Linked DNA regions of Homo sapiens: region 2 is linked to region 1. The links come from fine-mapping of genetic effects on gene expression. A gene starts in region 1. The other region holds a variant in brackets. All regions are shown on one strand. Distances are from middle to middle.

Region 1 (5,385 bases):
CTTTCCAGAGAATGTTATGATTCTCTTTCCTCTGCCACTCATGACTCTTCCGTGGCTGGATCTGACCTGCTTAGAACTCATAAATCCTTAACATTTGGGGGGTGTCTATTCAGCCCAGTTTGCCTGCGTCATGTAAGTTATTTCCTTTGAAAAACGCACATACATTTTCACTGGGTCCACAGGCCTGGGGAGTTTATATGGGCCTAAAAGTGAGAATTGGTGTCTCTCAAATCTCTTTCCTCCCTTCATGAGTACTAAGAGCTAGGTGATGTGGAGCCAGGCTCCTGCTGGTACAAGCGCCTCCCGCTCTTCTATGTGCTCCAACAGCAATATTCACACGCTCGTTCATTCCCTCCACAGAGAATACTTGAGCACCCTCACTGTTTCCAAGACAGGGTAGGGTAGAAGGGTGGATAGAAAACTGAATTCTCTGTCTCTCGCCACAATTTACATTTCACTCCAGCTAGTGTTGTTTCTCTTACTTGGAGAGGGGTTCAGCTAATGAAATACGTAAGATCAGATTATGGTCATCACAATATTAGCAAACAAAAGGCATAGAAACTAAACTCACATGCCAGGAGTCACCATGACAGTCTTTATCTTCAGTATTTCTATCAGGTTATTATGTGTTGTGCTTGCAGATGCATTGAGCTATCATGTGTTTGGAACATATGGACTGAAACTTGGAAGACGACCTGCATTAGGCATAACAGACACCAAAAGCAGAGATATACAGACCTATGCTAAGGCATTGTGGAGTCCATCTTCCCAAATCACATGATAGCTTAAATTGTACTATAATAATTTGCCTCCTATAGATGGAGTTCAAGAGGAACCCATCAATTAATAAAAATATTATATCACTTAACATAAACCTTTGGTGTATATTACATGTATGATATGATAAATCAAACTATACATGGTATTACATGTATGATATGATAAATCAAACTATAGTTTAGAACTTTGCTAGCTATATTTGTTGATATATTTATTGATTTTAATCTTCAAGATAAGCTTTGTGACTGTTTAACAGCATCATTGGTTCAGTCTCTGTATATGAATATGTTAGATGTATTAGATCTATGTGTATATATTTATACACATATACACACACATACTGTAAGCATATATGCCTATACCTTTTTTATTGATAAATAAATCTTCTTTGAGCACCTTGTGTTCCAAAACTAGTGTTTGCATTTGAATTTTCTTAAAAAGTACTTTATTCTTGCTAAATAATTGTATTTAAGACAGCCGGTGTAGCAGCATAGCAGAATTTACTTCTTAAAACATTCGCTTAGTTACCTAAAGAAGTCCCTAAAATTCCAACACATGGATCCTATAAAAGCACTGACAAATTGCACAAAAAGCAAATTTGGGCTTTTCAATATCATCAATAGCTATGAAACAAGAAAGTGGCCCTGATGGTAAGGCTACAGCAAAAAGACTTACTGTTGGGTGATCCTGGAAATCACAGTCTATGGATCCAGACCTGCCAATCATGGCCCACACTGCCATTTTCCTCTTCCTTATGTGAGGCTGTGGCATATTTACCAAATGACATTTCGTGCTGTTTTCACACTATTGTTTCTTCAACGTCTTCTTTAACTAACTTTCATTTTGTTCTTCAATCTGTTGTATGTAATAAGTAGGGAGTCTATCAACAAATCACTAAAGGTCTTGGTGACTCTTCTCTCCCAAAGCGCTTAGCTAACAGGTGCAAAATAGTGAACTGAGAGATTTTGTGGTGAAAGGATAATTTATTGTAACGGCAAAGACCTCAGCCATTACATTTCAGAAATGGCATCTGGAAGTACCCCTGGAGCACCACTCCCCTCAAAACTCTGGAATGGCTACAACATTATGGATTGACAAAAGTTAATTTTTGACCCTCTACAAAGTTACATGTTGTGACTTATTTTGTTTTTGTTCTGGATGAGTGGGGTGAGGTCCCTATGAAGCTAATTGGTACTTTTCATCTTTTAATCTATATCCTATGTGGAATTACTTAGGCAGAACCCCAGAGTCAGAGTGAACTTTCCTTTCTGCTCCTCTCTTAAGCAATTTATTTGTCGTTTACTCTATCTCCACTTTTACCAGTTTGCTGTAATTTAATTTAGATTAATGATATGCCAATATGTGAGCCAGGGAAAAAACTTCTTTCCTTTATAGCACCCTATGAATTGGTCAAGGGCAATGACAATTTCAAGGAGAAATTTGGGCTTGAAAACTGAGCTCCCACCACTGTCAGTCCCCTGGTGCTTCGCCATCTTATCTAAAGCTTCTTCTGAGAACATCACAGCAGGTTGTCCCTGATTGCTAGTACATTCTCCTAAAGGTGGGACAAGTGTAAGAAGAGCATTTGACACAACCCAGTCTCTCATGAGATGACTCCCAATGAAGGTCATTGTTTAAAGCAGAGCCATATTTAGCAGCTCTTCAGGAAAACACCACAATGCATTTTATAAAACATACTAAGATGGCAAAACAGTTCAGTCCCATTGGAGGAGAGTCTTTATTCTCTATTTCCCCCCCTTCTCTAAAATGGGCGATTGCTTTTCTGCCAAAGCGGCTCAAAGGGCCACAGAAGCTAAGGTCCTTCAAAGCTGTTAAATGCATCTTCAAATTTACAATAAAATCAGCATGACAAATCTTCCAGTAAAATCTCTGGAGCGTCACAGCAGCGCCTATACAATTTTCCTTTCAGTCAGTATTTTAGTATTCCACACCTTGAGAAACAGGGAAAGCCAATGTGGGCGAGGAAAGCTAAGCAAAACAAAAACCAAAACAGAAAAAAGAAAAGCCACCACCAACAAAGACAGTGAAAAAAAAAAAAAAAGCAAACAGCCACGCGCGCCATTAAGCATATGCCAAAGTAAACAATCGGTGCGGGTTTGCCACGGCTGTGCCCTGCAGGTAGAAGGCAGGCAGCACGGGAGCAAATGGAAGGGGAAAGAGAAAGAGAAGCAGGAAGTGGAGGAGCCGGGAGCAAGGCGGCCTGATTGTGAGCCGCAAGACACACCATCAGCCATGCAAAACAGGACATACCTTTCTGGCTTGCTGGTTCTGTCGGCTGAGACAAAGCAGTCCCATTCGCAGCGGGAGGCCAAATCAAAATGAAATTTTATTTAGTCTGCACTGTCCCCAGATTGGGTTTCAGAATGACTGCTTTAGGAGATAGCATGGATGTGGCTGATGCATGCTTTGCATATGAAACTGCAGTAGGAAAAGAAATCTACATAATCAAAAAAATCTGTGCTGTGTGTGTGTGTGACAAAAACCCTGGACTCCAGTGATTTTGCTGCCGTGTATGTTTCAAGCAGGCCCTTTCAGGGTTGAAAGACGTTAAAAAAATTTCTTAAAATAATGTTATTAATAAATATTAATAAATCTATAACAGCCTAGTTTATGAAAATATATGCAATTTCCTGGTTACAACTCTGCCACATTAAAATAATTGTGATTTCTAGTTTATTTAAGAGTGTATCAAAAATCTGTGTGAGAAAACAAATTGAACTTAAAAACAAGTGCAGGCGATTTCTTTTGGAAGGGCGTTGTTCCAACAATTACTATACTCCCTCAACCTTGATAAAATAAATTAAAAGCTTAAGTCTTAAGCAATATGGAAATTAACACTAGGAGCCTCTTTGACTTTTCTCTGGGAAGACACTTAATCATATTTAGACACTATTTTAAAAAATAGGGCAAAAGTCTTTGAAAACACTCTTTAGACGCTGGAAATTATATTTTTGACATTAAGAAAAGGGACTGTAAAGTGTATATAGAACACATATCATGGAATCTCTAAATAGAGACATGTGTGCTGTATGTGTGTATTGTACACACACACACCTACTATGCTTTTAATACAGGGTTACCTCCTGCTTTGGGCAGGAAAAGGAAGTGATATTCAAGGTGCTGTGAAACAAGGGGGCAGAATAGAGCCTGTTGGTAAATATATATTATTTCTCAAAGAAATACTTATCCCAGCTTGGTTTTGATAGATCAGTTCCTTGAGGTTGAGTGCTGCCAATCATTTTCTTTAAAGAGGAAATAAAAAGTAAAAGAAAAAAGAAATAGAAAGAAAAAAAAATACCTGTATAAAACGACAGCAAAAAAAAAAAAAAAAAAAAAAGGCAAGACAGGCTCTCCCACTGCACGGTGCTCCGAAAAAAACATGGACTCTTGTAATTCTGTTTTATGAAGTATTCCCAAGGATGGGAAGAATATGAAATCTGCCCATTTAAGCTCTGAGGAGGCAGTCTCCAAGCCATGACCCAGAGCAGCATAAAAACTTCTCACAATAATGAGATACAAATAGCTCAAACAATGTGCTTCCACACACAGCCCCAGCAGAAATCACCAACAGCAGAACCATGTACTGATGTCCCTTAGAGAGACAGTCAAGCCTAATTCTGTGATTCAGGTTTCGACACCATTTTCTTAGAAAAGCTTTTCCCCGTTCCAGTTTGGATGGGTGGCCTGTCAATAATAATATTTACAAATGTAAAGGTCTTCTTAAATTGGTAATTTTGCATTAGGTACAAAGGCATCATGTTCAGCTGTGTACACCACCAGCATAATTAAAGCATAAAATCCAAAGACAGCAAATAACATGTGCCTCCTTTATGCTCCAGAACCACCACGTCCAGGTCTCCTTATAACAAGGGCAGTGCCTTGGTTTCTCTGTTGCTTTCAAGCAAGACCCTCTTTTGCCTTATCTTTCCATTATATCATAATTGTTCAGATATTCACTAAGCAGGAGTTTTGCCTGCCTATTATTTTTAGTGACAGGACACCCCTTTTCTGGAGGACGGAAAGATGTGACTTCTTAACAAATTCTCTATCCCCCAAATTCAGTGCACCTGGCTTTCACTTTCTACCTAATAAGCATCCGTGAATATGCAAATGTTCAGTGTCTCAGTAACCTCATTAATTTATTCCTCAGGCAATCATAGAATGTGAAGCGGTCCTGTGCCACTAGTACTGGATATGGTAGGATCAGGGCTACGAGAATCAGCTGAAAGCTCAGGCTGCATACTGAAACACTGTTTCATCTTTATTCCGTCTTTTGGCACTCTAATTCAAACAAAGACTCTTACCTTCCTCTACTTAGCTGACAGCCAAAAGCAAAACCAGAAAAAAAAAAAAAAAGAAAGAAAGAAAAAAAGAGAAATGCGTAGGGTTAGTAATTAAGATCTTCCCTCCACCACCAAACACGAACCAGAGGTGATCCATGGCTTGAACAAAATCTCCACAACAAAACAGTTTCCAAACTGCCCAAGTTGTCTTATTTTATTATTTACTGGGGGTTGGCGGGGGTGGGGGGAGTGGGGAGCAGAGGGCAACCTGCTTTCCATACAGCAATGCAGTTGAATAATC
Region 2 (5,385 bases), 72 kb before region 1:
TTTTCCAGTTTCAATACACCGACCGTAATTTGTCAATACAGTTACTGTTATCAAAGTGCAATTTCCACCTAGAAGATATAAGTAAAAACCACATCACAACTAGAGGTTCCCAGTGGTGAGCTGCTGTCTCTCAAGGTGTACAAAGAGATGATTCACTGCTAGGGCATTGTAGGAGTAGTATCTACGTTCGGGGACACTAACCTTGGGTACCTCTGAGATCCTGTCTTTTTTGAGAGTTGCTAATTCTCTGGATTTCTTTGCTTTCTATTTTAATAATATAGATGGCACACGATTCTAGGTTTAAGATAAGACATGGAGAGTTTAGTGGATATTGCGTTGGGCTCTCCACATCTCGTTAGGACTCAAAACACTCCTTCCATCAGCTGCTGGGCATGGCGGTAGCAGATCAGCTGCCAGCCTCTTCCAAAAATGTCCCTGGCTGGAGAGAGCAGCCTAGCCCAAGGTCATGCCTCTTCCTAAGGAATTCTGTATTAGCCTTTGGTTAGTGTAGGGGAATAAAGACCTGACCCCCTTGCCTCAACTGGAGACCACATTGAAGGGCTTTTATCTTCAGAGCTCCCCAAGGTCAGCTGGACTCTGTTGAGTCCGGCTTCTCCCTCCCAGTCCTGCCTTGTTCCCATCCCTTCCTCCATGTGGGTCCCCATAGGTATCCTCACTCAGTCTCCTGCCCCATAAGCTCAGGTTCTGTGTCTGCAGCCTGGGGAGCCCCAGTAGAACTATTGTGTAAGAAAATAGGCCGGTCGTGGTGGCTCGTTCCTGTAATCCCAGCACTTTTGGAGGCCAAGGCGGGCGGATCAAGAGGTCAGGAGATCGAGACCATCCTGGCTAACACGGTGAAACCCCCTCTCTACTAAAAATACAAAAAATTAGCCAGGCATGGTGGCATGTGCCTGTAGTCCCAGCTACTAGGGAGGCTGAGGCAGGAGAATCGCTTCAACCTGGGAGGCGGAGGTTGCAGTAAGCTGAGATTGTGCCACTGCACTCCAGCCTGGACGACACAGCAAGACTCTTTCTCAAAAAAAAAAAAAAAAAAAAAGAAAAAGAAAAAGAAAATGCCTTTGATGTCATGTATGCAATGGGAGCCCAGGGCTCTTGTTAGAGTCTTGAAGGTGCCTTCGTCACGTTTGGCTTGCGGGGGCTAACAGCCAGCGAGTTGTGTCACACTGTGTTCAGAGAAAGGGGCTGCTCTGGGAATTTCCAACCATGCTCCATGGAGGGATCAGCGTGTGCACAGTGCTGGGCACACTTCGGTAGCTCAGTAAACATGTACTAAAAATTAAAAATATAAACTGCAAACCTTTACCCTGTGCTTGGATTTGGAAGATCCTGTAGACCATTCTGAGCCACAGAGCACACGTGGGTGCTAGGGACAAGACCAACTCTGGAGGTGAGGGATGACCTCCGCAGATTCTTGGTCAGAGGGCTATGTGAGAAAGAGATAAAACAGGCCTATAGTCCTGCCACATGCTCTGCAGACTGCAAAGGAAAACTGGGCTATCCAGCAAGGTTGACCGAGAAAACAGAGCAGCACTGTTAGAGAAATTCAGAAATCATTTAAAAGACAGAAAAGTTTACTCTCTCAAATATCGTGAGCAAATGCTGCAAAGTATAACTTCACCTCCCCCCAATTTTATATCTTCCTCTGATATTTTATCATAATACTTTTATGGCTTCTTCTGAAGTGTTTTGATATGATAATTTTTTTGCAGGTACCTTTCATATGCATCAGCTTATTGGCATCAACAAGTTAGATAATAAATTTAGCTACAATACAGAACTACAATAAACATAATATGTACGGTATAAAGGTCACTGGAACCAAGTTGACATTTTGTTGTATTTCAGCATAAAAATACAGGGCAACTTTTGTGAACATTATTAATAATTTGAATTCTGTACAACCAAAGACATCCAAACATATTGTCTTAAAAGAATAAATGCTCAGTCAATGCACAATAAGTTTCTGATTAAAGTTCATTACCTCCATGCTGTCCATGGACTGGGTGGGCCACTCTGACCATTAAGTTTTTCCAAGAGGTGAAATGGTTCAGTGGCCCAGGCTTGGGAGACCCAGTTGGGTTCAGATCCTGGTCCTCCCCTCGCCAGCTGCATGGCCTCAATCAAGTCACTTAGTTTTGACAGCTCAGTTCCCTCGTCTGTAAAATGGAGATGGAAATCATAGTACCTAACTTATAGAGTGGTTTTGAGAAGTTAATACACATTAAACACTTTGAATAGTGTCTGGCACATAATAAGCTATAACTAGCTATTCTTATTCAAATGGATTTTCTCCCCTGAAAAAATGCATTCAGGATATTTTGAGGCAGCTTGAGTCCCGTGTACCAGACATGGTTTCTCCCATTTGGCAATGTCACTGAAATGATATCTGAGAACCAAGCATTGTGCCAAGGTAAGGCAGACATCCACTCCCCATAGAAGTTTCCATGGGTTTTCTGCCATTTCTAGCTATGGGATTCATTTATCATAGCTTTGGGGAAATACTTTACCTATTTTATTTCTCTTGTCTGTAAAATGGACACAAAATACTTACCTATTTAGAGTTCAGTGCAAAATACTTGCTGAATAATTAGCTTACACAGTGTCTAGTAAGAAAGAATATTGGGGCCGGGCGTGGTGGCTCACACTTGTAATCCTAGCACTTTGGGAGGCTGAGGCGGGCAGATCACCTGAGGTCAGGAGTTCAAGACCAGTCTGGCCAACATGGTGAAACCCCGTCTCTACAAATATACAAAAATTAGCTGGACATGATGGCGGGTGCCTGTAATCCCAGCTACTCGGGAGGCTGAGGCGAGAGAAACGCTTGAACTCAGGAGGTGGAGGTTGCAGTGAGCTGGGATCGTGCTGTTGCACTCCAGCCTGGGTGACAGAGGAGACTCTATCTCAAAAAAAAAAAAAAAAAAAAAAAAAGGAAAGAAAGAAAGAAAGGATATTAGAGGTTGGAGGTGAAAAATAGCCTGTGTTACCATCTGCACTGGGATTTGGCATCCCTCATGAGGGGTTTGCAACAATCAGTTGAAGCACTATTATTGCATCTGCACTTGGGCATTGACAGGTTGGTCTTACCCACTGGATCCCAGTCATGCTGTAAACAGGGCTTGCTTTGGAGTCTGTCAGACCTGGCTTAGACCCAGGCTCTGACCAAATGGGTGAGTTATGCAGCTACTTGGTGGCATCTAATACCCTATCGCAAAGGACTGCCGTGAACAGGAAGGAGGTGTCAAATTTGGCAGTGCCTGATGAGGTGAGGCCAGGACCCAGGAACTTCTATTCCCTCCCA[T/C]GCTCAGGAACAGTAAGTGTTCTTCTATCTGCAGAGGTAGATGCTTAGCACATCGTGGGTACTTCACTCATGATTGCTAAATTTGAATTTGTGATAAGTCATTTCAAAAGTCAGATCTAGGACCAAAAATACAATATCTGTCAACATGAACTGTAGATCATGGTTTTCCTCCAGCCCAGGAATCTCCTTTCAGTAAACGCTTCTTCTCCAAATGTCTTCATTCCCTAAATAAAACAAACAAAAAAGTGGTAAGAGATCTGTTCATTTCAATTCCCACAATATAGGTTACAGTCAAGATTCGTAAGAGTTTTCCAATTTTAGGTATCTTATTTCTCTGTTCTCTGAAATGGGTACAATACTAAAGAACTGGCTAGGATTTAGTGTAAAGTACTTTCTCAACATTTGGACTGTGCATTTTATTTGTATCATGTCTCTCAAATTCAAATTTGTTAATGTTAACATCAGAGAGTAAATGACTAGAGATTCAGCATGCATGTCCACAAAGAGATACCAATGTGGGCTATGGGGGAAATAGTCATTATAACAACATCCAAGGGCAGACAGGAAAATTTATAGTCATGGACTAATTATCCTTTTCATCTCTCAAGTTTACATCACTGTGAAAATTCTTCCTCTAAGGTTAGGTGGCAGCTAATGTGAATCCTAACTCAGGTGTTGGATATATTTATTATGGTGGCCTTTCTTTAATGTTTCTACACAAAGTCAAGTGGACATGGACATTCAGAATACTACACATTCTGAAGCAATAAAATCTAATATGCTGTAATATTATTTCCTGCTTCTATTTAAGATAGATACTTAAACGCTAACTTACATTTTATTCAATCTTTAAGTTTTTAAAATAATGAATTTTCTCTACCGCATTCCCACCCCCTCACAGTTTTTGAGTCCACCTCGCTGGATTTTGTGAAAATAGATCCTTCACACACAACAAAGAAGGAACTTTCTGGAAGGCTGTACTCTGGAACTGCAGACTTCTCTCTCAAGTCAAGTACATTTCTGTTTTTCTTAAAGCTGCAAAACTACAACAATGTTTATATTCATATGAAGTATTTCAGCAATTCATAGCCAATTTATCAATGACCACGCAGCTGCAGGCACTGCAGTTTAAAAAAATATACCAGCTCACTTAGTGTTTACATAGGCTCTGAAAGCCCCACGTCCTGGCAGGGGGACGGGAGCCACCGGAGTCATTAGAAAGGTACGCTGGAGCGCCTGCCTGTGATGGTGGAGGGATGTTTGCATTATAGCCCAACACATCATTAAGGACACAATTGTTATTTAATGTGGCACAATCATCTTTCTACTCTTCATGAAATCCACTTAAGTAATTACCTTCTTAGCTCATTGGCTCTGTGAGCTGCCTGGTTAGAAAGGGTTATATCTAAGGAAATATTAAAAACCGGGCTCACACTGTTGCCCCTTTAAGCTGACTTGTATTTATTAATATATTCTAAATGAAGATCTTTCTTCCTGCCCTGAAAGAGGGAGGAAACTCCAAGGTAAATAAATGCTCTGGAGCATTGGCAGGGTTTAAAGGGAATAAGAACACATTAGCCAAAGTCTCCTCACTGTCAGCCATTCTTAACAAAGCAACTGATACCTGCATAATGCCTGGGCTCTTTGTAGTTTCAGTCTGACATCTGTTTTAGCCAATCAATTTTTCATTAAAGTCAAAATGCTGCTTTAAAATTTGCCTTGGCTTTCTCTTTTTAAGACAAGAACAAATTTATGACGAAAATATTCCTTTACAAAACTCGATGCAATAGCTTACTAAGCTGTGTGGATCTTCATAAGTGGCATAGTTTTGAAGACTCACTTTGAATAGTCTAGATATTAAGATGGAAAGTTTAAAGAACCCACAGAACTTATTTTCAGAGCACATTTAAATGTCTTTTAAGCAGATTTTTTTTTATTATGACGTGTCCAAGATGAGCTTGCAGAGATTCAGCATCATTTAAGGAGAGCAGAGCCGAAGTACAGAATTGAAATTACTTGAAAACACACATCTGCATTTTAAACTTTAAGCTCCCTTTCAAAATACA

Which allele goes with the higher level. Alleles are on the strand shown, and positions count from the first base shown. SD is a standard deviation of normalised expression in the study named.
For the expression in putamen of the gene that starts at base 3,228 in region 1, T is the low allele of the variant in region 2 and C is the other (moderate effect, 0.53 SD a copy in GTEx).

What was found.
Region 2: its variant is fine-mapped to the expression of LINC01102 in putamen (GTEx, PIP above 0.99). The same link has a PIP of 0.9 or more in caudate.

The regions. Positions count from the first base shown.
Region 1 is chr2:104,432,190-104,437,574 of GRCh38, reverse strand. It overlaps LINC01102 (long intergenic non-protein coding RNA 1102), which reads right to left and starts at 3,228. Exons shown (of 4, transcript NR_015399.1): 1 at 3,052-3,228.
Region 2 is chr2:104,504,024-104,509,408 of GRCh38, reverse strand. It overlaps LINC01102 (long intergenic non-protein coding RNA 1102), which reads right to left. Exons shown (of 4, transcript NR_015399.1): 2 at 3,106-3,543; 3 at 2,003-2,177. It overlaps LINC01103 (long intergenic non-protein coding RNA 1103), which reads left to right. Exons shown (of 6, transcript NR_110113.1): 2 at 4,221-4,541. Among named protein-coding and RNA genes, the nearest start is that of LINC01103, 3.8 kb to the left of the region's middle. The variant T/C (reference allele first, on the strand shown) is at 3,320.